2 linked regions of the Homo sapiens genome follow. The protein of the gene in region 2 purifies or fractionates together with the protein of the main gene of each other region. This does not show direct contact. Each region holds a gene or a part of one and is shown on either strand. Other genes may lie near its edges. The genes, in order: SPECC1L and G2E3.

Region 1 (15,519 bases), on a different chromosome or scaffold from region 2:
TCTGCCTCAGCCTCTTACTTGAAAAACAGACAAAAGCAAAGCTATGATGTGAATAGCCTGAATTACTGCAAAAAGTACATGAATGTCAGAAGTAAATCCTAACTCTTACTAGATAGGTCAGTTAATCAGTGACACAGTTCACGGCCTGTTATTAAGATATCCTATAACTGAGTCTAGAACTTTACTCACTTCTTAGTGGTAGGACAAAGATATAAGACAGAAAAAGAGGAAAGCAGTAAAAAGTACTTCCTTTCAAATTCAAAATGTCATGGTCCATACTTCCTTGTTAAAATGCCGAAACACACCATATGACTCAATTATTAATACAATAATTTTGCTGTTACCAACTTAGGATAAGCTTCACCTATGTCTTTATCTCAGGAGCAATGTATTGCAAGTTCAAGCAATAAAGTGTAATTACATGCGAGAATGTCAATATAACATAACCAATCAGGTACTAAAAAAACAGAATATGTAAAATAACTATGATGTTTCTTCCCAATATTTCATTCTCATTTTTAAAAAGTAAACTTTCAGAACAGTACTGTAAGACATAAGCAAACTTTGACTTTCAGTAAAAGGTTACTACTAACAGCAAGTGTCAAGAATAGACTACCATGCAGATTTCACTGCAGCTTACCCCCACTTTATCAGATGGAAGTCTTAAATCTAAGCCTTCGAAACTATATTCTAGGTTACAAACATCACCAAAAAATCACCAAAGCCCTACACACATATACATGCCTCTGAGAATGTTGCCTGTCGAATCTGATTTACTGAATAAATGAGTAACTTGATTATTTTAGCTTAAATAAACAATCGCTTTTAAGGACTTCAAAACACAAAATCAAGATTTTCTTTTCAAAAAAGAACAGCGCGCCAGGCGCGGTAGCTCACGCCTGTAATCCCAGAACTTTGGGAGGCTGAGGCGGGCGGATCATGAGGTCAGGAGTTCAAGATTAGCCTGGCCAACATAGTGAAACCCCGTCTCTACCAAAAATACAAAAATTAGCCGGGCTTGGTGGTGGGTGCCTGTAATCCCAGCTACTCAAGGCTGAGGCAGGAGAATCACTTGAACCCAGGAAGCGGAGGTCGCAGTGAGCTGAGACCGCGACACTGCACTCCAGCCTGGGCGACAGAGCAAGACTCCGTCTCAAAAAAAACAAAACAAAACAACAAAAAAAAAAACAGCAGTATTGTTTTAGATCATAACACTTAACATAGACCACGTGATACACAGAAGGCAGCTCTTTGAATAGGAGCAGCCTGGGACATTTGCTGGCTTGTATTCATGAATTTACATACCAAGTGGAAAGAACTCAGACTGGTTGGGTAGAATATGCGTTCAAATGCTAACAACTCCACTACTTATTAGTTATCTGGCTCTGGGCATATTACTCATCTCCAAATTTCGGTCTTTCATCTTTAAGTAGAAACAGCTAACACATAGGATGCTATAAGAACCACATCAAACGATGTGTGGAAACTAACAAGGAAAATGCTCAGCCCACAGAATTACAGTAAGCATCCATCTCCTTTCCTTCCCACTACAACCAGAAGGACAAATTTCCCTTTATCCTAAACTTACTTTCTTCTATCTTGTCACAGTACTAGTAGACATATAGCTCTCCCTTTCCACTACAATCCCCAGGGCTGCTTCCACTCCGACTTAAGCAGAGAAACTTCAGAGGTTCTTCTAGACAACTACAAACTTTGTCACCCAATCTAAGTGTGTGCCACCCTCTTCCAATCCTAACCACCACAGCTTTGATCACTCTAGAGTTTAATTCAACACAGCTTTCTTTTACCTTCCTCCATCTTCCTCTTCAATCAACTACAAAATTACACTTACTTTTCCTTTGATTGTCCCTGGTGACTATGTGTCTCTCCCTTTCTCTTCTCATCCACTCCCTCTACTCTGCATGAGTCACTCCACTGGCCTTTTATCAGGCTTTCTTGACTGACACCGATCTCTCTGATCCTTTCTGTATTCTTTCAAATTGTCCTCCTTCTTTCTGAACTGTTGCTTTTTAAAGATGGGATAATAGTATTGTGGTGGTGTTTTTAATTTTAAAGATTCTCAGCTGGGTGTTGTGGTTCACGCATGTAATCCCAGCACTTTCAGAGGCCAAGGCAGGCAGAACACGAGGTCAGGAGATCGAGACCATCCTGGCTAACGCGGTGAAATCCCGTCTCTACTAAAAATACAAAAAAATTAGCCGGATGTGGTAGTGGGTGCCTGTAGTCCCAGCTACTCGGGAGGCTGAGGCAGGAGAATGGCATGAACCCGGGAGGCAGAGCTTGCAGTGAGCCGAGATCACGCCACTGCACTCCAGCCTGGGCGACAGAGCAAGACTCTGTCTCAAAATAAAATAAAATAAAATAAAATAAAAGATTCTCTATTAATTAAATTACAAAATAATGGAATATCTCTGGAAAATTCTGAAATACTTGGGAACTCACATACTTCTACGTCTATGAACTAAAGAAGAAACCAAAAGGGAAATCAGAATGTGTTTTGAACTTAAAATGAAAACATAACATATCAAAATTTGTGGGCTATCCTTAAATTACCTTTAAAAACTTAAAGCAGTAAAGGGAAATTTATAACACTAAACACCTATGTTGGAAAAGAAGAAAAGACTCAAATCAGCTCCTACTTTAAGAAACATGAAAAAGAAGAGCAATGAAACACAAAGTATGGAGAAGAAAAGAATAAACATCTAAGCAAAAATCAATGAAATAGAAAACGTAAAACAGAGATCAATGAAACAAAAAATGGGTTGAGAGGATCAAGAAAACTGATAAACCTCTAGCCACACTCATAAAAAAGAGAGGACACAAATTACCAGCATTAAGAATGGAAAGGGTAACAACACTACAGATTCTACAGCTATCAGAGGAAAATAAGAGACTGTTAGAAACCACTTTATGCCAGTAAATTCAAGAACCTAGATAAAATAAATGAATTTCTTGAAAGACAAACTATCATAAAATAAATGAATTTCTTGAAAGACAAACTATCGAAGCTCAAACAGTGATAAATAACTTGAATAGCTCTATAGTTATTGAAGAAATTGGATTTGTAGTTAAAAACTTTCCTACAAAGAAAACCCCAGGCGTAGATGCATTCACTCAGGAATTCCACTAAAGAAGAAATAAAACAAATTCTTTACAAACTCTTCCAGAAAACTGAGAAGAATATTTCTCAACTCATTCTATGAAGCCAGCATTACTTTGATACCAAAATCTGACAAAGACATTACAAAAAAAGAAACCTACAGACCCATATCTCTCGTGAAAATAAATGTAAAAATTACAAACAAAATTTTAGCAAATTGAGTCTAACAATCTAGAAAAAAAGGATAATATATCATAACCAAGTAGGGTTTATCCCACAAATGCAAGGTTAGTTTAACATTCAAAAATCGGCAAGGCAGGCTGGGCGCGGTGGCTCACGCCTGTAATCCCAGCACTTTGGGAGGCCGAGGTGGGCGGATCACCAGGTCAGGAGATCGAGACCATCCTGGCTAACACGGTGAAACCCCATATCTACTAAAAAGACAAAAAATTAGCCGGGCATGGTGGCCAGCGCCAGTAGTCCCAGCTACTCCTGAGGCTGACGCAGGAGAATGGTGTGAACCCAGGAAGAGGAGCTTGCAGTGAGCCGAGGTAGAACTACTGCACTCCAGCCTGGGCAGCAGTACAAGACCCCATCTCAAAAAAAAACAAAGTTATCGGCCAGGCACAGTGACTCACGCCTGTAATCCCAGCACTTTGGGAGGATGAGGTGGGTGGATCACCTGAGGTCAAGAGTTCGAGACCAGCCTGGCCAACATGGTGAAACCCCGCCTCTACTAATAATACAAAAATTAGCCAGGCATGGTGGTGCACACCTGTAATCACAGCTATTTGGGAGGCTACGGCAGGAGAATTGCTTGCACCCAGGAGGCAGAGGTTGCAGTAAGCTGGGATTATGCCACTGCACTCCAGCCTGGGTGACAGGGTGCGACCCCGTCTTAAAAAAAAAAAAAAAAATTCAAAACTCAATGTAACTCACCACATTGTAAACTAAAACAGAAAAGCTGTATGATCTTCTCAATACACACAGAAAAACACTAAACAAAACCCAACATTCATTCCTTATTAAAAAAATACAAAACTCCACACAGAGGATAACCTACTAAACCTGACAAACAGCATATATGAAATACCTGTAGCTAATATCATACTGAATGACGTAAGACTGAATATTTTCCCCATAGGATCAAAAATGAGACAAGGAAATCCACTTTTACCACGATTGAAACTGCCTTTACAAAATTATGACTGAGACAGTGAGAGATCTAACTTAACTGACTCCATCTTGCTTCTAACCTCCCAGTTGTCCTTGCTCATTCCTGGGTGTAGACTGAACTAACTTCGGGAGAAACTTATAGTTTATAGTTTAAAACAAAGATGGTAACAGCCCTTTCCCAAAGCAGACCTCCTTCTTGCCTGGGCACCAGACTGCCTTCGTAGGACTCACATTAGACACAAGATTAGAAATTATGGTTTAGGAGTCACGCAGCTGAAGGCTAAAGATTCTGACCCTCCCTAAACTGCTCTTGAGATCAGTGCTTGAGAAATTTTGCAGACCCTGCACTTGATGGATCAGCTGGCACCATCCAGATCGATTAACTGGCTCATCTGATCTTGTGGCCCCCACCCAGGAACGGACTCAGCTCAAGAAGAAAGTTTCAACTCCTTTTGATTTCACCCCTGACCAATCAGCACTCCTGGCCCATCGGCTTCCCCCCACCTACCAAGCTGTCCTTAAAAACTCTGCTCCTCAAATGCTCAGGGAGACTGATTTGAGTAATCATAAAACTCCAGTCTCCCACCCAGCAGGCTCTGCCTGAATTACTCTTTCTCTATTACAATTCCCGTCTTGATGATTCCGCTCTGTCTAGGCAATGGGCAAGGTGAACCCATTGGGCAGTTACACTTCTATTCATTATGTACTTAGAAGTTCTAGCCAGTGCAGTAAAGGAAGGAAAAACAAATAAAAGGCATTCAGAGTGGGAAGAAAAAAGTACAACTGTCTTTATTCACAGACAACATTGACAGAATAGCCAATGGAATCCATCAAAAAGCTTTGAAAACGAATTACATTAAGGTCTCAGGATACAAGATTAATACACAAAAACCAAGTATTATTTTTATATATTAGCAATGAATAATGGGAAGTTGAAATTCACAGTATCAAAATATATGAAATAGAAGTAAATCTGACCACATCCCTTCAAAAAACTGGAAAGATTTGTACACTGAAAACTACAAAATATTGTTGAGAAAAATTAAAGAAAAACTAAATAAATTGAGAAGTATACCATGGTCATGGGTTAGGAGATTCAATTTTATTAAGAAGTCAATTCTTCCCCTGAAATTATCTACAGAATCAAAACAATCCCAACAGAAATTCCAGGAGCTTTTTTGTAGAATGTGACAAGTTGATTCTAAAACACAGAAATGCAAAGGACCTAGGACTGATAATTGTTGAAGGTAGGTGATAAATACATCACTTGGTATTTCACTACATTTTTCTCTCTACTTTGTAAATGTTTGAAATTTTCCATAGTGAAAACATGTTTTGAATAAAAACTCAGATGCTTCCAGGAACACATATAAATACAAAACATCCTTCCTTTAAAATTTTCATTACATTACAAAAATGGTTTCCTCTTACATACTACCTTAAGTCTAACTCCCTGGCTTGGCTTCCCAGGCCCTATAACCAGTCCTCTCTGCTTCCTGTTCCTCTGTAACAGGGGTAAACAAACCACAATCCGGGGCCAAATCTGACCCATCACTTGTCTTTTTTCAGCCCAAAAACTAAGAATGTTTTGCATTTTTAAATGGTTGGGGGAAAAAAAATCAAAAGACTATTTTGGGCTGGACACTGGCTCATGCCTGTAATCCCAACACTTTCGGTGGCCGAGTAGGGTGGAGAGCGTGAGCCCAGAAGTTCAGGAGTTCAAGACCAGCCTGGCCAACATGGTGAAACGCCGCCTCTACAAAAAAATACAAAAACTAATGGGGGGCGGTGGCAAATGCCTATAGTCCCAGCTACCTGGAAGGCTGAGGTGGGAGGATCACTTGAGCCTGGGAAGTCAGGGCTGTAATAAGCTGTGGTCATACTGCTGCCCTCCAGCCTGAGCAACAGAGTGACACTGTCTCAAAAAAAAAAAAAAAAAAAATGTTATTGAAACATAGTCACATTCATTCACATCTGTAGTGGCTGTGGTTACTTTTGCACTACAATGATGGAGTTGATTAGATGCAACAGAGACCTTAAGGTCTTCAATGACTAAAACATTTACTGTCTGGCCCTTTACAGACAGTCTGTCAATCCCTAATTTATTATATGCCTTCTTCTCCCTCAGCTAACTAATTGCCTCACCCCAGGAATGTTCATTACTACCTCTTCTTTGTTCAAGCCCCAGCTACTCCTCAAAACCCAAAATTCCCTTCTTCCCCTTTCCCAAATCCTAACCATATCAGCAGTTTGTGTGGAAGTAGGTAAGCAAAACACCATTCGTCATTATGTAAAGCAAGGCATTGGAGATGCGGTCCCTACATGTACAAGGGGAGGCTGATTACCCCCCAATTCATTTCCAATTTCTCAAAGCAGGTTGGCAGGCTAGCACCTAGGAAGGAGAGAGTGAGCAGATGATGCAGACAGAGCACTGAGAAACTCCTCAGTAACTCATGAGAGTTCATGTGTCAGTCCCCTTGTCTGCTATGTCATCCTTTAGACATCAATTCAAGACAGCAAAATTCAAAAAAGAAATGAGGAAGAAAAAGGTGATGAGGGGCAGAAGGAAAATAGAAGAGAACTTGTCACTTCACAATGTAGAGACTGTCACAAACTGTGGTGAATGGAAAACTATTCTGTTCACCTGGGCGTGGTGTCTCACGCCTATAATCCCAGCACTTTGGGAGGCTGAGGCGGGCAGATCACTTGAGGTCAGAAGACCAGCCTGAGCAACATGGTGAAACCTGGTCTCTACTAAAAATACAAAAAATTAGCCGGGCATGGTGGCACATGCCTGTAATCCCAGCTACTCGGAAGGCTGAGGCATGAAAATCACTTGAGCCCAGGAGGTGGAGGCTGCAGTGAGCTGTGATTGCACCATTGTTGCCCTACAACCTGGGCAACAGAGCTAGACCTGTTTCTAAAATAATAAATAATAATAATAATAATTAAAAAAATAAAATGTACATTTCTAACTTCATTTCAAAGTTAAGGCCAGGTGCAGTGGCTCATGCCTGTAATCCCAGTATTTGGGAGGCCGAGGCAAGGGGATCACTTGAGCCCAGGAATTTGAGACCAGCCTGTGCAAAATAGTGAAACCTTGTCTCTAAATTAAAATAAAATAAAAAGTAAACAAAGTCAAATTTTTTTTAAAAATCAGAAGAGAAACGTTGAACTGCATACTTCCAGGCCCAACAGAGTAGAGGTCAGCACAGGCGCAACCAGGTTGCATATCTACATACAATCTGCCCTGGCAGGAAGGATATCCTTTTCTTCCAGGTTTAACCACTCTAGGTGACCCAGATTATTTTAAATTATAGCGTCAACAATTTAAAGCAGCTTTTACTGTAAGGCACAATCTCAATAATTAATAGGGCAATATAATAAATACATAAAAGCTCAGGGAGAAAACAAGACTCTTGAATGGGCCTGGAAGTTTTGCCACGTCCCCCGAAGTACTCTCGGTTGCATCCTTCGGAACCTTTCAACACATATACATATACCTCCCTCATCCTTTTGTGAAGAGTGTCTATTAATCACTAGATTAAGAGGATTTGGATAAAATTTATAAACGTACAAACTGTGCTACCAAGGACTGACACATTTACTTTTCTGGCTCATCAGTTTATGTCCTAGAAAAACTCCAGATCCACATTAACCAGCTGTTTCCTATTTTACATTTTACGATGGTGTTTCCACTTTCACCTGCAAAGTGACTAATAGTAATACCTATTCCAGTAATTTAAGTAACACCATTTAGAGTAATTTCATCTTTAGTACTGTATTTATACTACTAAGAAAGCTGCCAACGATTCAAGCTGCACTCACTGGTGAAACCCTATGCTATATATGTAATTAATTTATTTCCTAAATTCTTACCTCCCTCCACCCCCTCCATTGGAAAATAAACTCTAAGAATGCAAAAGTTTTTGTGTGTTTTTCTTTAACGCTTAGAGCAGTGCCTGGCACCTAACAGTCAATATCTGCTAACTTTGATGAATGAATGGTATATTTATATTATGCAATATTACTATGCAGCCATGAAACACAATGAGTTAGAGTGGTACCAGCTAATTTAATGGAATTTCCAGAAGTATGAAATTAAGAAAACAAGAAGAAAAGTGTCAAAAATATCATCCCACTTTTTTTTTTCTTCCCTGAAACGGAGTCTTGCTCTGACACCCAGGCTACAGTATAGTGCTGCCATCATGGCTCACTGCAACCTCAAACTTCTGGGCTCAGGGAATCCTTCCACCTCAGCCTCCCATGTAGCTGGGACTACAGGTGTGTGCCACAACGCCCAGCTAATTTATTTTAAATTATTTTTTGTAGAGACAGGGTCTCCCTATGTTGCCCAGGCTGGTCTCAAACTACTAGGCTCAAGTGATCCTCCCACCTCAGCTTCCTGAAGTGTTGGGATTACAGGTGTGAGCCACTGTGCCCAGCCTAATCCCACTTTTTAAAAAGTATACCCCCAAATCCATACACTGGTGAGGAAGTGGAGAACGTGGAATCCTCATACACAGAATTTAAAATGGTACAGCTCTGGAGAACATTATAGCAGTTTCTCAAAGTGTTTAACATAGCTACTACACGACCCAGCAATTCAATTCCCAGATATACACCTGAGAGAACTGAAAGGATATGTCCACACAAAAATTTGTAGAGGAACTTGTACACACTTGTTCACAGTAGCATTATTCTTAATAGCCCAAAGTGGCAAAAACGCAAATGTTCATCAACTGATGGACAAATAAAGCATGAACAACTGATGGACAAATAAAGTATATCATTCAGCATATAAGAAATGAAGTGCTAATACATGCTACAACAGGGACAGACCTTGATAACATTTTGCTAAATGAAAAAAGCCAAACAAAAGGTCACATGTTGTATGATGCCATTTACATAAAAATACCTAGACTAGGCAAATCCATAGAGACACAAAGATCAGTGACTGCCCAGAGCCAGAGGGAGTGGTGAATGTGAAATGACTACTAATGAGTACAGACTTCTTTTTGAGGTATTGAACATGTTATGGAATCAGATGGTGGTGATCAATGCATAACTTTGTGAATATACCAAAAACCACATGAAAGGTACACTTTAAAAGCCTGAATTTTAAGGTATGTGAATTATATCTCCATAAACCTGTGATTTTGTTAATATACGCTTATTTGCAAATGAATACATGGATAATGAGGAATAATATGAAAGGTTAATGACAACCTTGGTGATAGGGTACCGGAGACTGGGAGAGGAAGATAAGTGTTGAGGTAGAAGAAGACAAAAAATAAAAGACCAAAACAATAATCCAAAGCCAGGGGCCATGAGTTGGGAGATGGAGCAAGACGAAGTGTACAAAGAAATGAGCATAAATCATAAAAATGAGGGAACTAGGGTTGAAAAACCCAGTAAGTAGTTTGTAATGGGGGAGACGAAGCAAACCTAAGTAACTGCAATGATTCAACAGAATTTGCAGAAAATGCAGAAGGGCGAGAAAAACAATGAAAAAATGGATCAGAAGATTTAAAATTGGCTCTACCCCACCAAAGTTTTAAAAAGCAAGCAAGAAGAAAATTCAGTTGCTCCTGGGCAAGAATTCTTGGGCCCAGTGGGGTAGAACCAAACCATGATAAGGAGACACCAGTGTTTTGTAAGCAAGAGAATATATTAAGGAGAGAAAAGGGGCATTTATTGGGAGAAAAGGTCTCACTGTGATTGTTCTGGAATAAAGTAGCCCCATCGGACTGCCTCAGGAACTCATGATGGAAGAGGTGCCACTGGAAAATGGCTTAGTCGGGATCTTCCCCAAGAACACTAGAAGAGAGAGAGGAAGAATAGAATAGCTTTAAATTTTAGCAGATATTTCTTTTTCTTGTTTAATTAAAATAAACCTTATTGACCTAATATTTTTGAGACTGGGCTCTTGCAATGCTGCCCAAGCTGAACTCAAACTCCTAGGCTCAAGAGATTCTCCCACTTCAGCCTCCTGAAAAGCTGGCACTACAGGTGCGCACCACTGGGTCCAGCATAATGGCTATTTCTTGACAAATCTTGACAATGCCACCAGTATGTTTTTCTTTAGAGACAGAGTCTCGCTTCGTAGCCCAGGCTGGAGAACAGTGGTGTGATCCCTAGCTCACTGCAGCCTCAAACACCTGGACTCAGGAGATCCCCCTGCCTCAGCCTCTCAAGTACCTGAGACCACAGGTGCGCACCACCACACCTGGCGAATTTTATTTTTTTTTATTATACTTTAAGTTCTAGGGTACATACACCTGGCTAATTATAAAATGTTTATCTGTACAGACAGGGTCCCGTTATGTCGCCCAGGCTGGTCTCGAACTCTCGGCCTCAAGCAGTCCTCTCCTCTTCACCTTCCAAAGCCCTGAAATATGCCCACATCCAGCCTGCCACCAGTTTCTTTGCATACTTCTTTCCTAGGCTTGACCAAGACCTTTACTTTCTTCTGTGTACAGCTCAGCATTGAAAAAAAAAAGTTTAGGCTGGGCACAATGGGTCACACCTGTAATCCCAACACTTAGGGTGGCCAAGGCGGGAGGTTTGCTTGAACCCAGGAGTTCCACACCAGCCTAGGCAAGATGGCAAGACCACGTCTCTCAAAAACAATTTTTGTAAAATTAGCCAGGTGTGCTGGTGCGGGCCTGCAGTCTCAGCTAGTGAGAAGACTAAGGCAAGAGGAACCCTTGAACCCAGGAGTTCAAGGCTACGGTGAGCTGTGATCACCTCTCCAGCCTGGGTGATAGGGTGAGACTCAGTCTCTGAAAACAACTAAAAATAAAAAAAGTTGAATAATGAGTCTTCTTTTTAGAGGCAATGTATTTTTCCTCTTTAACTTTTTGTTTTCCTTAGGCTATATGCACAATAGACAAAGTTGAAATTTAATCTTAATCTCTTAAACCCTTACTGTCCAAACACATCAAACTCAAAAAAAAAAAAAAAAGGTGAAAGGTGTACAAGAGAAAAAAGGGAAGTGATCTGTGTCAAATGTACATTCCTTCCACAATTTGGGATAAAAATGATGCCTACCTGGTCTCTGGGTGCCAAAATAAGACATTAGAGACACTCCCCTCCTTCAAGAAATAAAATTGGAATCAGACACTAAGGTACAATTAAACAGACTTTGAAAAGTTGGTACGCACTACTGGGAGGTGTCTCACAGCTGTCAGGGTCAAGTGCAACTAGAATAAAAGCTCCTAAGGGCAGAAACTAAGTGGCTCACTTCCTCTGTAACACTGCCGTGCCCAGCACTGTACCAGCACCCCAGCAGAGTCAACAACTTTCTGTCAAGCCACACACTTACGGTCTCATTGTCCAGTGGAGGCCGCAGACGAGACATAGTGTGCCAAATCCCAAATGCACAGGGTGCCAGACAAGTCTGCAGGAGGCAGGAGGACTAGGGAAGCCTTCCAGGCAAGGTGATGCCTGAGCTGAGTTGTTTTTCTTTTGAGTTTGGAACATTAATTTAATCGGAGGAAAACAAGGGACATGAAAAGGGCAAGGAAATAAGAAAATGAGCTGAGTTTTGAAGGCAATGATCAGATGAAGTGAGAGAAGAATATTCCAGCAGAGGGAGACAAGGAGACTGCAGAGATTTCAAGGGGCCAAGAGCTGTTCAGTGCAGCTCAGTGAAGCACCTAAACAGAGGTAGGGGAAGGAGAACAGGGGTCAAAGCCCAGTATTGAAGTGTTCTGGATACCAAGCTAAGGAGACCTTATTACGAAGGTACTGGGGCTGCTGAAGGGTTTAAATGGGAAAGTGATTGTGAACAGATTAATAGTTTGGAAAGATACAGGCAGAAGTAAACCTCTGGATTTAACCAAAAAATAAAGGACAGAACCACAATGAAGATGTTTGGAAAAGATCAGGAAAAACACTGTTAAAAGATATTCACTCTCTTCTCTTATTTACAGATTTCCTTTATGGAATACCAAATTATTCTTTGAAAATAGAGAACTCAGAAGTGGCTGAGAGCAGTCAGTCAGTCTTCAGAATGTAAAAACTACTATTCTGAAGAAGTAGATATTACATTATTAATTTCATTTCAAGATGCTTTAAAAACGTGCCTTTTGATACACTGCAGGTTTTTTAAGAGTATGTCACAATAACTCTAAATCTTACTTGAAATTAATAGAAGAGCACTATAAATTTTAAAGGCTTCACAGACACAGGGATCATCTGTTATGTTCACTTTGGAACAGATCATAATTGTCCCTCCCTCTCAACATACCCAAAATACGTTGTTTAAGGCTACTTTCCTAATGGTCATGTTATTTCACAGTAAAAGACTGAGGTCACAATGATTTCTGAGCTGACAGAAAACCCCATGGGGGTTCTTTACCTCGCATCTAGTCTATTCAGTACTAACAATTCCAACCACCAGAAAGAATTTCCCTGCCTAGGCTTATTTGTTGGCACAACACAAAAAAATCTCCTGGGGCTGGGTGAGGTGGCTAGTGCCTGTAATCTCAGCACTTTGGGAGGCCAAGGCAGGCGGATCACCTGAGGTCGGGAGTTCCAGACCAGCCTGACCAACATGGAAAAACCCTGTCTCTACTAAAAATACAAAATCAGCCAGGGGTGGTGGCACATGCCTGTAATCCCACCTACTTGGGAGGCTGAGGCAGGAGAATCGCTTGAACCTGGGAGGCGTAGGTTGCGGTGAGCGGAGATCATGCCATTAGACTCCAGCCTGGGCAACAAGAGCGAAACTGTCTCAAAAACAATTATATCTAATAAAAAAGATCTATTTAACAATGATCAGAATAGGAACATCTTTAATGCCATGCAAATTTAACAGCTTTCTCAGTGGATTTCTCAGTAGACTGTGACCAATGATCTCAAAATAAACTCATATTTACTCTTAAGAAATACTCTATATTTGAATCTTCTTAACAGCAAAAGCCCCAGGAACTTTTTCCTGAACTCCCTAACAGCAGCAGGAAAACAAGAGATTCTCGGCTCTCTTTATTTTTAAAAATCACAATAACTACCCTTGCATTTACTATTTACGTTTACCATATATCACCATTTACTATCACCATCATTTCATAAAAGATGCTTTATTTTAACACCAAGAAAGCAGAACTTTTTTAAAGAAAAGATAGTCCTTCAATTGAATAAATTGAATTGTATAAAAGACTCCCAATATTGTCCTTTTTTTCTTATTTCTGTTCCCTTACTGAGCTGAGCAGTTTGCATAATACCACACACAGGTTAGTCATGTGATTTAAATATGTATATGATAGTAATTTTGATACTATCACTTAAGTCATTCGAAATATCAGATGCACTGTGTGTCAAGTCAGTTATAGAGAACCACTGCTTCAGAGAAATCACATCTGAGGAAGAAACACCGCAGATACACCTCCTAAAAGTTCACCTTTGAAACAGAAATTTTGATACAAACTTCACTTTAACTACAACTGTAATTGTAATTATTACAGTTATTCTCCACTCACTAGATACTGTACTTGACACTCACGTTATTTAGTTGGCTACCAACGTGCACCTGTGATAAAGCTTTCCTATGGCACAACATTCACTTTCTTACTGAAAATGTCAAGAAAACCCCTACACACCTGCAACCATTAGGAAGCATTCTCCAGCTATCAAAAAAGTCACTGAATCGGCTAAGCGACTCTGTGTGGTATACACTAAATCAAAGGGGAAAAGGTGTTTTTTTGGAGGAAAAAAATACTGGATTAGCCATTTATTGAAACAATTTTACCCACAACAATACTTCTCCTTTCACTATATACCCTTCTATGTTGGTTTGGTTATTTTACAACATACATGTATATTGTAATAGCTGTTTTTTTTTTTTTTTGAGACAGAGTCTCACTCTGTCGCCCAGGCTGGAGTGCAGTGGCGAGACCTCGGTTCACTGCACCCTCTGCCTCCTAAGCAATTCTCCTGTCTCGGCCTCCCGAGCCGCTGGGATCACAAGCGTGTGCCACCACGCCCGACTAATTTTTATATTTTTTGTAGAGACGGGGTTTCACCATGTTGGCCAGGCTGGTATCGAACTCCTAACCTCAGGTGATCCACCCGCCTCGGCCTCCCAAACTACTGTGATTACAGGCGTGAGCCAGGGAGCTCGGCCTTGTTATATCTGGTTTTTGTTTTTTTGAGACGGAGCCTCGCTCTGTAGCCCAGGCTGGGGTACAGTGGCGCGAACTCGGCTCACTGCAACCTCCGCCTCCCGGGTTCAAGCGATTCTCCTGCCTCACCCTCCTGAGTAGCTGGGATTACAGGCGCGCGCTTTTTGTATTTTTAGTAGAGACAGGATTTCACCATGTTGGTCAGGCTGGTCTTGAACTCCTGACTTCAGGTGATCCGCCCGCCCCGGCCTCCCAAAGTGCTGGGATTACAGGCATGAGGCACCGCGCCTGGCCTGGTTTTTAATTACGAAGAAAAAATTACTATAGTCCCTTTGGTATCACCTACATTGGCAAAATTGCAGTCCCCCTCCACTCCCTGAAGCCACCAGAAATGACTGCTGTTGTCTACAAAGCCTACAGCTCTGATTTCATCTCAAGATGTGTCCTACTGGGTGACAGCAAATGCCATTTTTTAAAGGCTTGTATCTGTTATAAGCTTGGGAAATATTATCATGGCTTAAGAGGCTCTTTTGACAAAAGAAAACACTGTTCCCTGAAATCACCTGGGCTGTTCACGGGAATCTTTTCCTCGCCCTTCTGGTACTTGGACAAATGATCAAGGATATCAACAAATCAAGGTTCCCCGCATTTGAATGATCACAGAATTTTTGCGTGTTCTGTAAATGGGCTAAAACTACTGGAAACTGATTTCTTTTCGTCATCTCCAGGGCAGCTTGCCCAACGTGCCGCGACTATGATGTCTTAGACTTAACTACTTAAGGTAATACAATTACCAAATTCCTGGAAACGCAAAATTTCCTCAGACAGGTACCGGATTATTCACATCCAACCTGATGCAATTAACCACGTCTCAAGAAAAAAGGACGTTCCGTCCGCCTCGGGCGCCGGCCACAGCAGAAGCAGCACCGGCAGCAGGCCCGGGGTCCGCCGCCTGTGGCCCCTGCTCCTCCGCTCTGCGCCCTCGGGGCCACTGAACAACGCTGTCCCCGCCCCAGGCAAGGGACCCGGGCGATGGGGCGGCAGCCCCAGCCTCTCCCGGAGCGGCGGAAAGGCAAGCACGAGGGTCGCACCCGG
Region 2 (15,924 bases):
TGGTCCTGGGACGACCAGACAGCCATGTAAATAAGAATGAAGTTGGCCAGGTGTGGTGGCTCACGTCTGTAATCCAGCACTTTGGGAGGCCGAGGCGACAGATCATGAGGTCAGGAGATCAAGACCATCCTGGATAACATGGTGAAACCCAGTCTCTACTAAAAATACAAAAAAATTAGCCGGGTGTGGTGGTGGGTGCCTATAGTCCCAGCTACTTGGGAGGCTGAGGCAGGAGAATGGCATGAACCCAGGAAGTGGAGCTTGCAGTGAGCCGAGATTGTGCCACTGCACTCCAGCCTGGGCAACAAAGCGAGACTCCATCTCAAAAAAAAAAAAAAAAAAAAAAAAAAAAAGGAATGAAGTTGAACCCCTACCTCACACGCATTAAAAAAAATCAACTCGAAATGGATCAAGACCTAAATGTAAAAGACAGAACTATAAATCTCTTAAATGAAAATCTAGGGGTAAATTTTCATGACCTTGTATTTGGCAATGGTTTCTGAGATATGACACCAAAAGCACAAGCAACAAGAAAAAAATAAATTGAACTTTACCAAAGTATAAAACTTGTGCATCTAATGACAATCTACAGAATGGGAAAAAATATTCAGAAATCATATAACCTGAAAAGGGTCTAGTATCTAGAATACATTAGAAACTCTTACAATGCAACAACAAAAAGACAAGTAATCCAACTTAAAAATGAACAAAATATCTGAAGACATTTCTCCAAAGAAAATATTCAAATGGCCAACAGCACATGAAAAAATGCTCATTATATTAGTGATAAGTAAATCAAAGCCACAATGAGACACCACTTCATGTCCACTATAATAGCTATAATAATAATTTTTACAAACTAAAATAGTAAGTGTTAATGATGATATGGAGAAATTAGAACCCTTACATATTGCTAGTGGGAAAGTAAAATGATGCAAGGGTGGAAAACAGTTTGGCAATTCCACAACACATTAAACAAGACTACCATATCACCCAGCAATTCCACTAGCTATGTAACCAAAACAATTGAAATATTTCAGTTCAAACAAAAACTTGCATACATATGTTCACAGCAGCACTATTCACAAAAGAGATCACTAAATCAATACATTACAAAGAAACAACCTAATTATACATCAATTGATGAATGGATATACAAAATGTGGTATATCCATAGAATGATTATGTGGCAATAAAAAGGAATAAAGTACTGAAACATGCTACAACATAGATAACCTTGAAAACATTATATTAAATGAGGGAAGTCAGACATAAAAGGTTACATGTTTTGGAACTAGGTAGAGGTGATGGTTGCACAACATCGTGAATGTACTGTCACTGAAATGTCTACTTTAAAATGGCTAATTTTTGACTGGGCATGGTGGCTCACACCTGTAATTCCAGCACTTTGGGAGGCTGAGGTGGAAGGATCGCTTGAGGCTAGGTGTTTGCAACCAGCCTGGACAACATGGTGATATCCTGTCTCTATAAAAAAAATTTTTAATTAGCCAGTCTTGGTGGCAAATGCCTGTAGTCCTAGCTGCCTGGGAAGCTGAGGTGGGAGGACAGCTGGAGTCCAAGAGTTGGAGGCTGCAGTGAACTATGATTGTGCCACTGAGCTCCAGCTTTGGGTGACAGAGATCTTGTCTCAAATAAAATGGCTAATTTTATAAATGGGAATTTTACCTCAAAAAAAGGTCAAATGTACACCTATCATATGATGCAGCCAAGAGAAATAAGGCATATGTCCATTGTACACAAAGGTCAACAGAAACTTTATTTGTGATAACTAAAAACTGTAACAATGTATATGGATAAAACAAACTGTGGTATATTCATACAAGAGAATACATTTACTAAAACTCATTGAACTATACCCCTAAAATGGGTGACTTTTATTGCATACAAATTGTATACCAGATACTTGTTTAAAAGTTAACAATTTTTATTTAAAACAAAAGGATAAGTTTAAGATAAAAAGCAATGGCTGGGCGCGGTGGCTCACGCCTGTAATCCCAGGACTTTGGGAGGCTGAAGCGGGCAGATCCCTTGAGGTCAGGAATTTGAGACAAGCCTGACCAACATGGCGAAACCCTGTCTCTACTAAAATCACAAAAATTAGCCGGGCGTGGTGGCAGGTGCCTGTAATCCAGCTACTCAGGAGGTTGAGGCAGGAGAATCACTGGAACCGGGAAGGCGGAGGTTGCAGTGAGTCAAGATCCCACCATTGCATTCAGCCTGGGCAACAGAGTGAGACTCTATATCACACACACACACACACACACACACACACACACACACACACACAAAAGTAACAAAGTTACAAGTTTACATTAAGTTATCAATATATAACTAGTCCCCAGGAAACAGATGTCATCCTCCCCTACCCCACCCCACCCTACCACCCATTGGCTCCATATGTCCATTTTCATGTTTCTTCATGATTCCACTGTCATAGCAACACATAAGACCTTTCCAGCTTGGCTTCCAATAGTCTTGTGATATCCCAACTCCAAAATCAAGAAATCACATGAATGGTCTAGCCTGCATCAGATATGCAGCTCTGATATAAATACCTGTACCAGTTTTGTTGGGGAAGTGGTATGGGACTTTAAGTGGTATGGGGCTTTATGTCCCTTAGACCAACCCTACCTACTGGTCATGAGAATGATGTCCCTACATTGTTGGGCAGGTTTTTAAAGAAAAGCTGTGGGCAAGATTAGGCAACTGTCTTAAGTGATCAAACGGAAAAAGAAAAGTTTTGTTTTTTAATTCCCTAACATTTTGAATTAAGATACTTTTTATTACATCTAACATACCACTCATAATTAAAAAAAAAAAAAACTGTACCAAGAGTGTAGGGACCAGCCCCACAGGATCGGTGGGTTTTTCTCCCCGTGTGCGGAGACGAGAGATTGTAGAAATAAAGACACAAGACAAAGAGATAAAAGAAAAGACAGCTGGGCCCGGGGGACCACTATCACCAAGACACGGAGACTGGTAGTGGCCCCAAATGCCAGGCTGTGCTGATATTTATTGGATACAAGACAAAGGGGCAGTGAGCCATCTCCAATGATAGGTAAGTTCACGTGGGTCACGTGTCCACTGGACAGGGGGCCCTTCCCTGCCTGGCAGCCGAGGCAGAGAGAGAGACAGCTTACACCATTATTTCTGCATATCAAAGACTTTTAGTACTTTCCCTAATTTGCTACCGCTATCTAAAAGGCAGAGCCAGGTGTACAGGATGGAACATGAAGGCAGACGAGGAGTGTGACCATTGAAGCACAGCACCACAGGGAGACGGTTAGGCCTCCAGGTAACTGCGGGTGGGCCTGACTGGTGTCAGGCCCTCCACAAGAGGTGGAGGAGTAGAGTCTTCTCTAAACTCCCCCGGGGAAAGGGAGACTCCCTTTCCCGGTCTGCTAAGTAGCGGGTGTTTTTCCTTGACACTGACGCTATCGCTAGACCATGGTCCTCTTGGCAACGGGCGTCTTCCCAGACGCTGGTGTTACCGCTAGAACAAGGAGCCCTCTGGTGGCCCTGTCCGGGCATAACAGAAGGCTCACACTTGTCTTCTGGTCACTTCTCACTATGTCCCCTCAGCTCCTATCTCTGTATGGCCTGGTTTTTCCTAGGTTATGATTGTAGAGCGAGGATTATTATAATATTGGAATAAAGAGTAATTGCTACAAACTAATGATTAATGATATTCATATATAATCATATCTAAGATCTATATCTAGTATAACTATTCTTATTTTATTATTTTATTATACTGGAACAGCTCGTGCCCCCAGTCTCTTGCCTCGGCACCTGGGTGGCTTGCCGCCCACACAAGAGGAAATTAAATATTTTAAAAATACATTTTAAAAGCTACTAAATCTTTTGGTGCCTCAGTTTCTTCATCTTAATATAGAGATAATAAAATGGTTGTGAGGATTAAGTGAGAAAATATGTATAAAGCATTTTAAATTCATGAATATTAACAAACATTGCTCCTGATTTTTTGCCACTTGAAATGTCCTCTGAGCCTATAATTTCAATACTTATTTTTCCATAGTTTATAAACCATATGCTATCACTAAAATCTCTACTAAACTACACAGAATTATATGCTATCATCTCAGAAAAAAGCCAAGCCTTAAAAAAAAAAAAGCAACAACTTTTTGAGTCATTAACCCAAGACAAAATGTGTTAAATTGTTAAAATAATAAGTACTCACTGAACATACACAGTTTCAGAGTATCATGACACTCACTGTTCTGCACTGTGCACTGCAGACATAAAAATTAAAAGGACAAGGGCAGTCTCGCACTATATATTTATAAGCAAAAAGCACAGCCTGGAGAAGTCTTTAAACCCATTTGAGTAAAATCTTAAGGGGAAATAAAAAGGCCAATGGCTAAATATGCATAAAATGTAATAAGAGATAGATTTGGAGAATTCTAGTAGTATTGATAGAACATCAGCAGGTTGGAAGAGACTGGTGTAATATTATGAAGATGGTCCTTGGGAAGAGAAGTTGGTACCAGACTCTGAAGGGCTCTGTAAATAAAAAGCAAAGCTAAGAAATTTGAATTATATATGGTAGACAATGAGAAGCCATCAGAGATACTTATGGAGCAACATCTGGAGGGAGACTGAAGAGAGGCAAGAAATATTACTTTTTTAAAAAAGCATAAACTTTTGAGTTAAATCTAATTTCCGACTTCAGTTCCAACGTGTTACTAGTTGTGTGAGAACAAATTACCGAGCCCCTCTTAGCCTGTTTTCTTATTTGAAGATAGTAACTACCTCAGCGATATTGTAAAGATTAATGAGAGAATGTATGTGATGCGGTTTTTACAGTTTAGTAACTCAATGTAATTGGAGACTTATGTATCATTTGCTATGTGGCACACACTATTTTAAGGTCTTTGTATATATTAACTCATTCAATCCTCACAATAATCCTACAAAGTAGGTAACCTCATCATACGGTAGAGGGAAATGAAGCAGAGAGGTTAAACAGCTTGCCCAGGGTCACCTAGCTATCAAGTGGTGGAGATGGGCTTCAAACCAAGGCAATCTGGCCCCAGTTCCATGTCTTTAATCAACACATTATAATGCCTTTCTAGGAAAGATCAAATCAGTGTTTTGAAAACTCACAGTATTTTCTAACCTTTCAGTTAAATATGCAGACTGTTCAATGCCATCCTCCAGACCTACTGATTCAGAATCTGAGATCTGAAGTGCAGGAATCAGCATTGTTGAACAAATCCTTCAAGGTAGTGTATACACAATAAATTCTGAAACTCACTGATTTAAGAAAGAGCAAAAATCCAATGAAAATAATTCAGGTAGAAAAAAATAAAGAGATTAGGATATAGCGATCAATTTTTAAAAATTACCATTTGTTGACAGCACATATGAAATGAGCAGAAAGGCTTAGAGAAGTATAGCCAATGTCTCTGTTACAAAGACACTATATGAAAAATGCTCATATTTTAACTATCCTAAACACCGAGTATTTAAGTCTATTCTTCCTGGCTAACACTTAAAAGTTCAATAGCAGGAAGAATGGGGGTGCTGGAATAGCCAGCACTGGATGAAGGAATGTTTTTATTCTGATTATTATGAAGTCCTACTTTTAAAAATATATTTATACATTTAAATGGTACAATATCCTGGTGTTAAAACCTTAAAAGGAACTTAAAATATCTTTTCGTATTAAGCTACACAAAACTGACGATTTTTAATAAAGATGTAAAACTTGTACACATTTAAAGTTCCCATTTATAGTTTACATTTATGGCACACTTTTAAACCATTCCAGAAGGCATGACTTTACTACTGGGTTAGACAGAGTTCCATATTTCAGATAGTTCATCATTAAAAATTAAAAAAAAAAAAGCCCAAAACAATAAAACCCAAAGAAACAGATGCTCAAAGCATTAGTGGATTACTTCCAAAAAGACTCCATAATAACCCAGTTGGCCAATGAATGAGGGAGGCGAAAAGGCAGGGCGGTGGAACTAAACCTTATCCCTATTGTTTGCAAACTAAGACCCTAGTTAATCACCACCGCTGTTACCACAGCCGGTTTAAATAGGAGTCTCGGATTTTTGCGGTACATGAAAAATGTCAACCGTGAAAGAAAAATATCCGGGTTTTAAATACAAAGGACACTCGAATTTCAGTTTAAATCCCACTCAGGCATTTCAAAGACTGTCACTTCCCTGCAGTCCAGAGTTAATCAAGGTTGCCCGGGTATCTCTCTCAGGAGGAACGCGGAGCCACGTAGAGCATCTTTTCATTCTAAACCCGCCCCAACCTTCCATCTTTCATTAAAAGAGATTTGTTTAAACGTGGCAACGCCTTCACAGTGAGATTTAACTACTGTTAAAATTTCAGCATTCGAGCCGAATTGGTGGAAATAATAAACTACGGGTTTAAAAAAAGCCACGGAGGATGCGTATAAACAAGGTTTACTCGCGGGGGACCGGCAGGGCCTCCGAATCCTCAACACTGAGAGCTGGCTGGCGTGCGCAACCGTCGAGAGCGCTGGTCCAGCAAACGCCCCCAGTGCCCCGAATTCCCTTAGTCTCCAGGCCGGGCCCCAGCACCAGACGTCCCCAAAAGCACTGCGAGGCCCCGGCTGCGACGTCCGGCCTCCTGACACCCTCTCCCACCCCACGGTCCTGCTTCTCTCTCTGGAACGTTCTGCGTCTTCCCGTTCCCCATTTACTCACCAAGGAGAGCTGGGCAGAAGTTCCAGAGCCTCAGTGCCACTTTTCCCGGCCCGCTGTACGTCGGGGCACGCCGACCGCGAGCAGCCACATTCAACGGCCCACAGGATTCAAATTCGTCCACTTCCGCTCGCAAACCCGGAAAGAGCGGTCGGCCCCGCCCTCGAGGGGTGGGACCCGCGGAGGCGCTGGCTGTGGGGAAGGGCCCGTGTGCTCCCGCCCTTCTGGCGCTCCTGCGCTGCTGCTCGGTGCTAACCTGGCTGTGTCGCCTTCGCTTGTTTGTTTTGTCGGGTCTCTCTCCCTATTTAGGAGCTCAGAAAAACTCCGGGCGCGGGGTCATTGTTTCCGCCTATTTGCTCTTGAGGGGATCCTCTTTTTTCCAAAATGGACAGAGATGTGCTGAAGTTTCGTCACCTTCGAGGAATGGGGCGAATGAAAGCACGAACGGAGGCAGGAGGGTTTTATCTTTCCCTTCATCCTCGAGGAAACAGCAGCAGCAGCAAGAAGGAAAAAAACAAACCCTCCAAGTACTTAGTGCAGCCTTTCCTGGGCCTCTCAGTCCTATCCCGGCACAGTCAGGGCTTTTAATTTATTTCTGTCCTGGGTTTAGGGAAAACAAAAAGCCAAGTTCACCCGTATTCAGCCAAAAGTTGAAAATAAGTGGTCGGACCAATTCCTGGTCTCAAATAAACTATTTGATGGTGTTAGAAGGCAATAAATTTTATTTCCCCCCTCAGATAAGGGCTCACTTTACGAGATTATTAAGTATTGTCCCGTGAGATTATTGAAACAACAGTATCTTTTCCTTTATCGAGGACCACAGTATGTCTTTGATCCAAAACGTCTTAAGCTTCTGAAGAGACATCTGGGAGCTTCCAGAAACTAAAGGAAGGACTGGAAATGCTAGGGGGTGAGGGGCGCTAAATAACTCTGACCTTTATGGCTGTGATTGATGTTGCCACCAGATCATCCTCACATCTAATAACATTGAATTACCTAAACGGATCAGTACAAACCAAACCATGACAGCATACCTTTAGCCTTTGTCAAAAATACAGTTTGAGGGCCGGGCGCGGTGGCTCACGCCTGTAATCCCAGCACTTTGGTAGGCCGAGGCGGGTGGATCACGAGGTCAGGAGATCGAGACCATCCTGGCTAACATGGTGAAACCCCGTCTCTACTAAATGTACAAAAAATTAGCTGGGCGTGATGGCAGGCGCCTGTAGTCCCAGCTACTCGGGAGGCTGAGGCAGGAGAATGGTGTGAACCCGGGAGACGGAGCTTGCAGTGAGCAGAAATTGCGCCACTGCACTCCAGCCTGGGCGACAGAGCGAGGCTCTGTCTCAAAAAAAAAAAAAAAAAAAAAAAAAAAATACAGTTTGAAAGGTTTACTAGATTTCTGAGAACCTATGCTACAGGTAATCTGACACAGGGGGTGTGTAAAGCTATTAACTGATGTACTGTTTTTAACAGTGGAAGATAGAAAATAATCTGTGTCTACAAATAAGGAAGGGGTTAAATACATGTAAGTTATGATACTTTAGCATCTGATATACTGACGCTGCGGGCACTAAAAGTAATGAAGTAGATCAGCGGGTACTGAAATGAAATACTGAAAAAGTTTAAGAAGGACTGTAGTATCCTTGTTTGAAAGTATGTGTGTGTATATGGTATACAAAGTTTTGGGATGGATACCTAAGCTGTAAACATCTCTGGGAGCGGGCTGGTAAATAAGAGTAGGAAGAGATGGAGAACTTTTACCTTTCACTTTATCACCAGTTGAATTTTTAAGATAATAAACTTTTTTTTTAATTTTGCAATTTTGTTCTTTAAGGAAGATTGCTAGAAATTGAATACATTCTAGATACAAAATCAGGTTTAATGAGCGTATAAATTTCTAATGTTTGGATAGTCTATGTCCATTCATTCATTCAACAGTTCTTTCTACAATTACATATAATGATTTGACCACACATTTTGTCATTCATGATATAGTGTATTATTTTATGTTTACATATCTAATATGACCCCGTTAAATATATTGCTCCTTGAAGTTTCTTGAAGGCAGAAACTATGTTATATATTTTCCTATGTCTTTCATAATTCTTGGCACCTTCCCACCATTCTTATCCTTCACAGGAATTAAATTCTCAAGTTGACCTGTATACAAAAGTTAAAAATGCCCTGGAAAAGCCACCCAAAAGATTATATATATATATATGATTTTCTTTATACAACTCTATGAGCAAGGTTTTGTGTTTTTTTTTTTTTTTTTCAGTTTGTCCCCTGAGTTCTCCTTGGTCAGTTCTTCTCTACAACCCTTAATTAATTCTTCAATTTCTTCCGCTAAAATGTTGTCAAAGTCATTATCACCCCGCAGCCTGGCCATCACTTGGAATAATGAGATTCAGTTCTCATCAGTGGTGGAGAGCCCTGTAAAGTCATTCACATTTTTTTCCATAAGATTAGCCAGGCTTAATTGTATTAATTGTCTAGGGTTGGTGTTCACTGAATGGACTATCTGGTTATCTGTACTAATTAAAATGTTGTTCTTTTTTTTTCACCCAGAGTGAGTATAGGTGATTTTGAATACAAACAATATTCAAGTAATGTTACAGCATTTTGTGAACAAAAAAGATCTTCAATAAATACCCACTGACTAAATCAAAGAGCCTGAGTACATACAACTTAAGGACTTCTTTGAGACGGAGTCTCTCTCTGTCGCCCAGGCTGGAATGCAGTGGCGTGATCTCTGCTCACTGCAAGCTCCGCCTCCTGAGTTTATGCCATTCTCCTGCCTCAGCCTCCCAAAGTGCTGGGATTACAGGCGTGAGCCACCGCGCCCGGCCACAATTTAAGGACTTTTGAAAGAAAATATTCATTGCAGGACGTACTTAAATCTAACAAACCTGGCCATCAGACCAGGCATTCTGAGAGCTTATAAACATTTTAAATTGAGTGAAATTGATATAAGTATTCCACTTAATACATGCTGCAAAAAATGAAGAATAAAATTAAGAATTTTATTCAGTCTCTGATAATCCCTCAGTAATGTGAACTAGCTGAGAACTGAATTCTTAGAAAATTTTAGTCATAGCTAATGTAACCTCTCTTTCCTGCTTTCCTCTTCCTATTCAATCCACATACAGCAGAAAACAAAACAAAAACACTCCTGGGACCAAGGGTCATCAATTTTACATGGAAGAAACAACATAAACTGCTTTGGCAGAAGAATTCCTATAATCTACTCTAAAAGGTTTTTACCACAACCAACATGAGTAACAGAAATGATAAAATGCGTAGAAATAAATTTTAAAGAAAATTCACAAAATCAAATTAGAATTCAATTTAATTTAAAATAATTTTTAAATTTTAAATACAGTTTTAAAGAAATTTTCTTTAAAGAAAGATATAGAACCTGCTACTTTAAAATATAATTTGAGAACATAAGTGATTTCAATGTTCATATAGGAAAATTAATATGTAAGAATTGTTAAGACATATTAGAAAAAGAAAACAGAGGTCAGGAGTAGACAATTTGTCTTACTAGAGAGTAAAAACTTACCACAAAGCTGCTACAAAGAGTAGCCAAAAAAAAAAATCAGACAAAAAATATAGTATTAGCACAAAAAAGAAAAAGAGAATCCAGAAAAATGAAACTATATAGAGAATATTAATATATTATAAAGGTGATATTTCCTTTTCAGGAAAAGGATGGGTTCATTCATAAATTAACAAGAACTGGAAATAACTGGCCAGCTATATGGAAGATATAAAGTTAGGCCTGTACCTTTTATCATATACCAAAATAAATTCTAGAAACATTAAAGATTGAAATTTTAAAAAATAAAACAAAAGTATATTGGGGAGAAGTTTAGAACGGTAACTGTGACTTTAGGGTAGAAGAGACTTCTCAAACAAGGCAGGGCCAGGTGCAGTAGCTCTTGCCTGTAATCCTCGCACTTTGAGAAAGCCAAGGCGGGAAGAGCACTTCAAGCCAGGAGTTTGAGACCAGCCTGGGCAACATAGTGAGACTGCTGGCTCTACGAAAAACAATTTTTTAAAAAATTTAGCTGGGTGTGGTGGTGTGCACCTGTAGTCCCAGCTACTCAGGAGGCTGAGGTGGGAGGATCCCTTGAGCCCAAGAGTTGGAGGTTGCAGTGAGCTGTTGCACCACTGCACTCCAGCCTGGGTGACAGAGCAAGACCGGAATCCTAGAAACCATAAAATAAAAGATGAGTATGTTTCATTATGTTAAAGTTTAAAATATTTGAACAGCAAAAGTCACCATGACACATTGAAAGATAAATGAGGGACAATGATAAAATATTTATAAAACATAGGACACTAGGTTAACAATTCTAATGTAAAAACTTTTATAATTTTTTTCAAAAAGCAATAAAAATGGGCAGAAGAAATGAACAAGTAATTCATTGAAAAGGAAATGAAAGAGGACAAGACACAGAAAATACTCAACTGTACTACCTCACTTTTGGGAATACAAATCAACCAACCAAATACCAAGTTTATTGGATTAGCAAAAATTAAAACAATTCACAATATCCCACACTGGGAGAGTGTGGTGGTAAAATGTACACTCTTTTTTTTTTTTTTTTTTTGAGACAGAGTCTTGCTCTGTCACCCAGGCTGGAGTGCAGTGGCGCGATCTTGGAGCTTGCATTTGGTATATGATAAAAGGTACAGGCCTAACTTTATATCTTCCATATAGCTGGAGTGCAGTGGCGTATCACTGCAACCTCCACCTCCCAGATTTAAGCAATTCTCCTGCCTCAGCCTCCTGAGTAGCTGGGATTACAGGCATGTGCCACCATGCCAGGCTAATTTTTGTATTTTTCTAGTAGAGATGGAGGTTTCCCCATGTTGGTCAGGCTGGTCTTGAACTCCTGACCTCGTAATCTGCCCGCCTCGGCCTCCCAAAGTGCTAGGATTACAGGCGTGAGCCACTGCGCCCGGCCAAATGTACACTCTTATCCACAGGAGCATACATTGCTACAGCTCTTGGAAAGTAACTCAGGCTTTTCTCAACTTTGGGATTCTCCTATAGAAATAAGCATGCTAGTGCTTTTTGAAGCACTACTTACAGTGGCTGCTAACTGGAAACAACTATAAAGAGGAAGATAATTGAATGAGTTAGGGTACATCCATCCTGTTAGGAGGCCATCCAAAGTTGTGTTGCTTTGCCCCCTAAACCATTGCCTCCAGAGTTAGGGCTATTGAACCCCCAAAGACATGCAAATAAGAAGGTATGGTATTCTTTAATTAGAGAAATAACAATGCTATCTTATACTGTAAAGCTGATAAACCTGGCACTCATTCTTAAATTAGCGCCCACTAGAATTAGTATACACTTTTGGACTAAATTGTCCTTTACAGGAACTCATTCCTCCTCTGTGTTAGCCATATTGAACTTCTGGTAACCCTTCCTGCCTTTCAGATGAATCAGATTTTTGTTTTACCCTCAGCCACTACCCACATTTGAAGCAAATACTTGACTCATACTTAAGGCAGATCCATCCCTGAATGTCTGTTCACTTTTCTTTTATCTTCCACCTTGAGGATAAATTTCTAGCTTTCTCTCTAGCCTGTCTCCTCAGCAATACCGATTAATATTCTGCCTGGTATCTGATAACCCCTCACTTATCTGTTGCCTTGATTAGAGACCATCCCTGAGATCTTAGAATGAAAGTTTTTAATTAAGTTTTCTGTGACTCAGAGCCCTAATAGAGTCATACTATAAGAAGTGTACTTTGAGGCCGGGTGCAGTGGCTCACACCTGCATTTTATGTGGCTCACATAAAATATGTCACAATCAGCTACTCAGAATACAGGCCACTGTAGGACTCTATTCCCAAACTTCTACTTCACTAACCTCTAACAAGAATGTAAAAGCATGAAATAGAGGTAATTCTCTTCTCTCCAGGTGACTTTATATCTTAATCATTCCTACTGTACTCATGATCTTGTTACTGCTCCCGTATTTACCTCAGGTTTGTTTTTTACTTCCTCCTTTAATGGTCTTTTTTTCTTCTTCCCCTCTCTGTGCTCACTGTCCTTATCTGTTACTTAGGCTTCCTCTATGATTCTCAGCAATATTTGAATACTTTGGAATATACTTAGTATTTCTAATTATGGCATTAATGCTACAAAATTTTCATCCCATGATTCCAAAATAAATTAGCCTATATTATCATTATTATTACTATTAATTGTTGAGACAGGATCATGTTCTGTCACTCAGGTTGCAAGTGCAGGGATATGATCATGGCTCACTGCAGTCTCAACCACCTGGGCTCAAGTGATCCTCTCATTTCAGCTTTTCAAGTAGCTGGGGCCACAGGCACGCACTGCTATGCCCAGCTAATTTTTTTTTTTTTTAATTTTTGTAGAGATGGGGGAATCTCGCTATTTTGCCCAGGCTGGTCTTGAACTCCTGGGTTCAAGTGATCCTCCTGCCTCAGCCTTCAAAAGTGCTGAGATTACGGGTGTGAACCACTGCCCCCAGCCATAGCCCATATTGTTGATCATCTCTTGTGTTGAAGACATAATGATAATATCATACGAAATAAGTACATGACCATTATTAGTGTATGACTCCATGATTAATAATAATTTGCCAAGCTTCTGCTATGCTGTCAGCAGTGCTAATATGTTTCTGAATGGAGTTGTATTCATTTTCTCAAGCAGAAAGGGCTTGATGCCTGATGCACTAAAAGCCAATATACAATGACTCTGGGCTGTTGGGAAAAGAAAAGCTTTTTGTTATATGTCAACTCACAAGAAGACAGGAGTCCAGCTCAAAGCCGTCTCTCTGTGTTGGCTTTACTTTTATTAGAAAAGGTTTAGGGGGTGATTCTGAGACTAGTAGGTGATTGGTGGAAGAAAAGGGGAGGTCTGGAAAGTCCTCAGGCACGCCCAGTTATCCCTTTGTGCCTCCTCATGGGTCACAGGTGCAAATTTAGGGGGACTTAATATGAAATGTGGTAGAAATTCAGGCTGTGACATCAACAAATTTGCTCTGCGCAAACTCCAGTTGGCCACATTGTTTCCAACAGTTCAGTTCATTGTTTCATCCAGTTTTTTAAAATCCCTCAAGTAGAGGGAGTTTCAGCTTTTCGGCAAGTTGTTTCCTTTTATTATTGACTAACCTTCAAATTCAAGAATGTCTGTTAGTTATTGGTTTCTTTAACTCTTTGGAGCACAGTTTCATTCATGTGTTTACTAATATGTTTCTTACATTCATTTGCGTGACCAGTCTTTTTATATCAATTTTTGAACTTGAATTAAGATACATTTTTGGGAAAGTATGTTGTCTGCTATCAAACAGAAGTCTTTTCTTCATTGTCTATTTACTTGGATCTTTTGATCTAAAGTGTTCATCTAACTGCTGTTCAGTCTCTTGTAAGTTAAACACACCTCCTCCTGGCAGCAGGAAGCAGCATCCAAAACAGCGAATTTCAGGTCTTTTGTTTCAGGGTTGTTTGGATAATAAGTAGCTATACAGTAACCACAGTGATTTGGATTGACATCATGCCTGCTGGGTAACTGTATGGATTTTACAAAGGACTCAAAGTTTGCTTGTAGCCAATATGAGACATGTGTTTTAATATAGGTCAAAGATGTGGTATGTTTATGTTAACATTACTCCTCTCTAAGTTGGTGTTTCAAACAAATGATTGTCTGGATTGCTTTTTAAAATTGCTGTCTTTTGGCCTGAAGTGTTTACATAGAAATCAGAGCCTCTTTACAGTTAAGAGTAACTCCAAATGCAGGAACACACATTGGTAATGCCACCCAGAATAAATCAAGTAATGAACAACATGCTTGAACTGAATCTTTAACATTCTTGGATACAATTGCTGGCAATCAAAACTGTTTTCAGTTTGTGTACTTTGATTTTTTAATCCCTCCCAGAATACTTGCGGAAAATGACTCCGCAACTGAATTGATAAAGTGACTCAGTTATAATAAGCCCAATCCTTACCTGAGTGTTTTGTTGGGGGTGAAAGAAAACTTCAAATTCTCACAAAGGTCTAGGGCACAGAATCATCACTTAGGAAGCAGGCACTTGCTCAAAGTTTAGCTTCAACACTTAGGGCCATTCTTTAGGAAACATTTTTCAAGGATAGTAAGTAGTGCAATGTTAAGAGGCGAACCTGAAAGCAAAACAGGCTGAGGTTTAAATACTAGCCGTTTTACTTACTAGCTAAGTATGAAGTACCCAATCCTTTGAGCTTCACTACACATTAATCAGATGTAAATAATAACTACCTGACAGGTTTCTTGTGAGCTCTAAGTGAGAGGACATTTAATGGTAATTATAATTAGGCAAATGGGTAAGACATACAGTTAACATCCCCTTCCTTCTCCTTTCAATGGCATCTGGCATTCCATGCCCAGTATCCTTAGGCTTGTGAGCCACTGAAAGGCACAAAGGAACTCTCCTCCCAGGTGGATCTTAGCCTCATATTCCTTTTCTCTGCCCTTCAGAACATATGATACATTCCTTAGTGACCTGCTGTCTACTTTCCACCTTGGTAGTGATTTGAGTTAATCCATGTTTATAGAAAGAGCTAATAAACTAGCTCTAATAGGTCATATTTGTAGCTGAAATAGTGAGAATTTCAGGGCAGTTTGATGTAATGTTTGCTATTTAACCCCTGTACAATTTTTTAAATTGTTTGGGTTTGCAAGTCTAGTATCTCCAAGTTGACTCACTTCTTAGGTATTGTACAGTAATAGATATTAAACTTTAGCCTTCCCACAGTGGTCATAATGGGGCAATGAGTCTTCCTGTAGGTGAGGTTAACTAATAAAAGGTATATGATTGGAAAAACATAAAAGGAACTAACATTTGTTTAATGCTTTCTACATTCAAAACACTGTGCTAAAACTAAATGTTGATTTACTTAATCTTGACAAAGTAGGTGATGAAACTAGGGCTTAATAAGATTAAATAATTTGTCCAAGGCCACAGTAGGCAGAACTGGTATTTTAACTATAGCTTGTTTGGTTGGACACAAAGCTTGTTCATTTTCCATTACAATATTTCAATTCACACACCCAGCAGAGATAGGAGCAGTGATAAGAAACCTAATATTAATCTAAAACAATTAGCTAATAGCAAAGTTTTTTTTTGTGAGAAATTTGCTTGTTCATCTATAGAACTGTAGGACGT

Evidence for each region.
Region 1: the proteins of G2E3 (region 2) and SPECC1L purify together in Homo sapiens (affinity purification with mass spectrometry; 2 studies listed by BioGRID and IntAct, with this or other methods). This does not show direct contact.

Annotation. Positions count from the first base shown.
Region 1 is NC_000022.11:24,271,298-24,286,816, reverse strand, and holds part of SPECC1L (cytospin-A), read right to left. Parts: intron 10,118-15,519; 5' UTR 10,014-10,117; intron 1-10,013. UniProt on the Homo sapiens protein: Involved in cytokinesis and spindle organization. May play a role in actin cytoskeleton organization and microtubule stabilization and hence required for proper cell adhesion and migration.
Region 2 is NC_000014.9:30,550,080-30,566,003, reverse strand, and holds the start of G2E3 (G2/M phase-specific E3 ubiquitin-protein ligase), read right to left. Parts: upstream 6,847-15,924; 5' UTR 6,732-6,846; intron 5,268-6,731; exon of another isoform or gene 5,169-5,267; intron 1-5,168. UniProt on the Homo sapiens protein: E3 ubiquitin-protein ligase which accepts ubiquitin from an E2 ubiquitin-conjugating enzyme in the form of a thioester and then directly transfers the ubiquitin to targeted substrates. Essential in early embryonic development to prevent apoptotic death.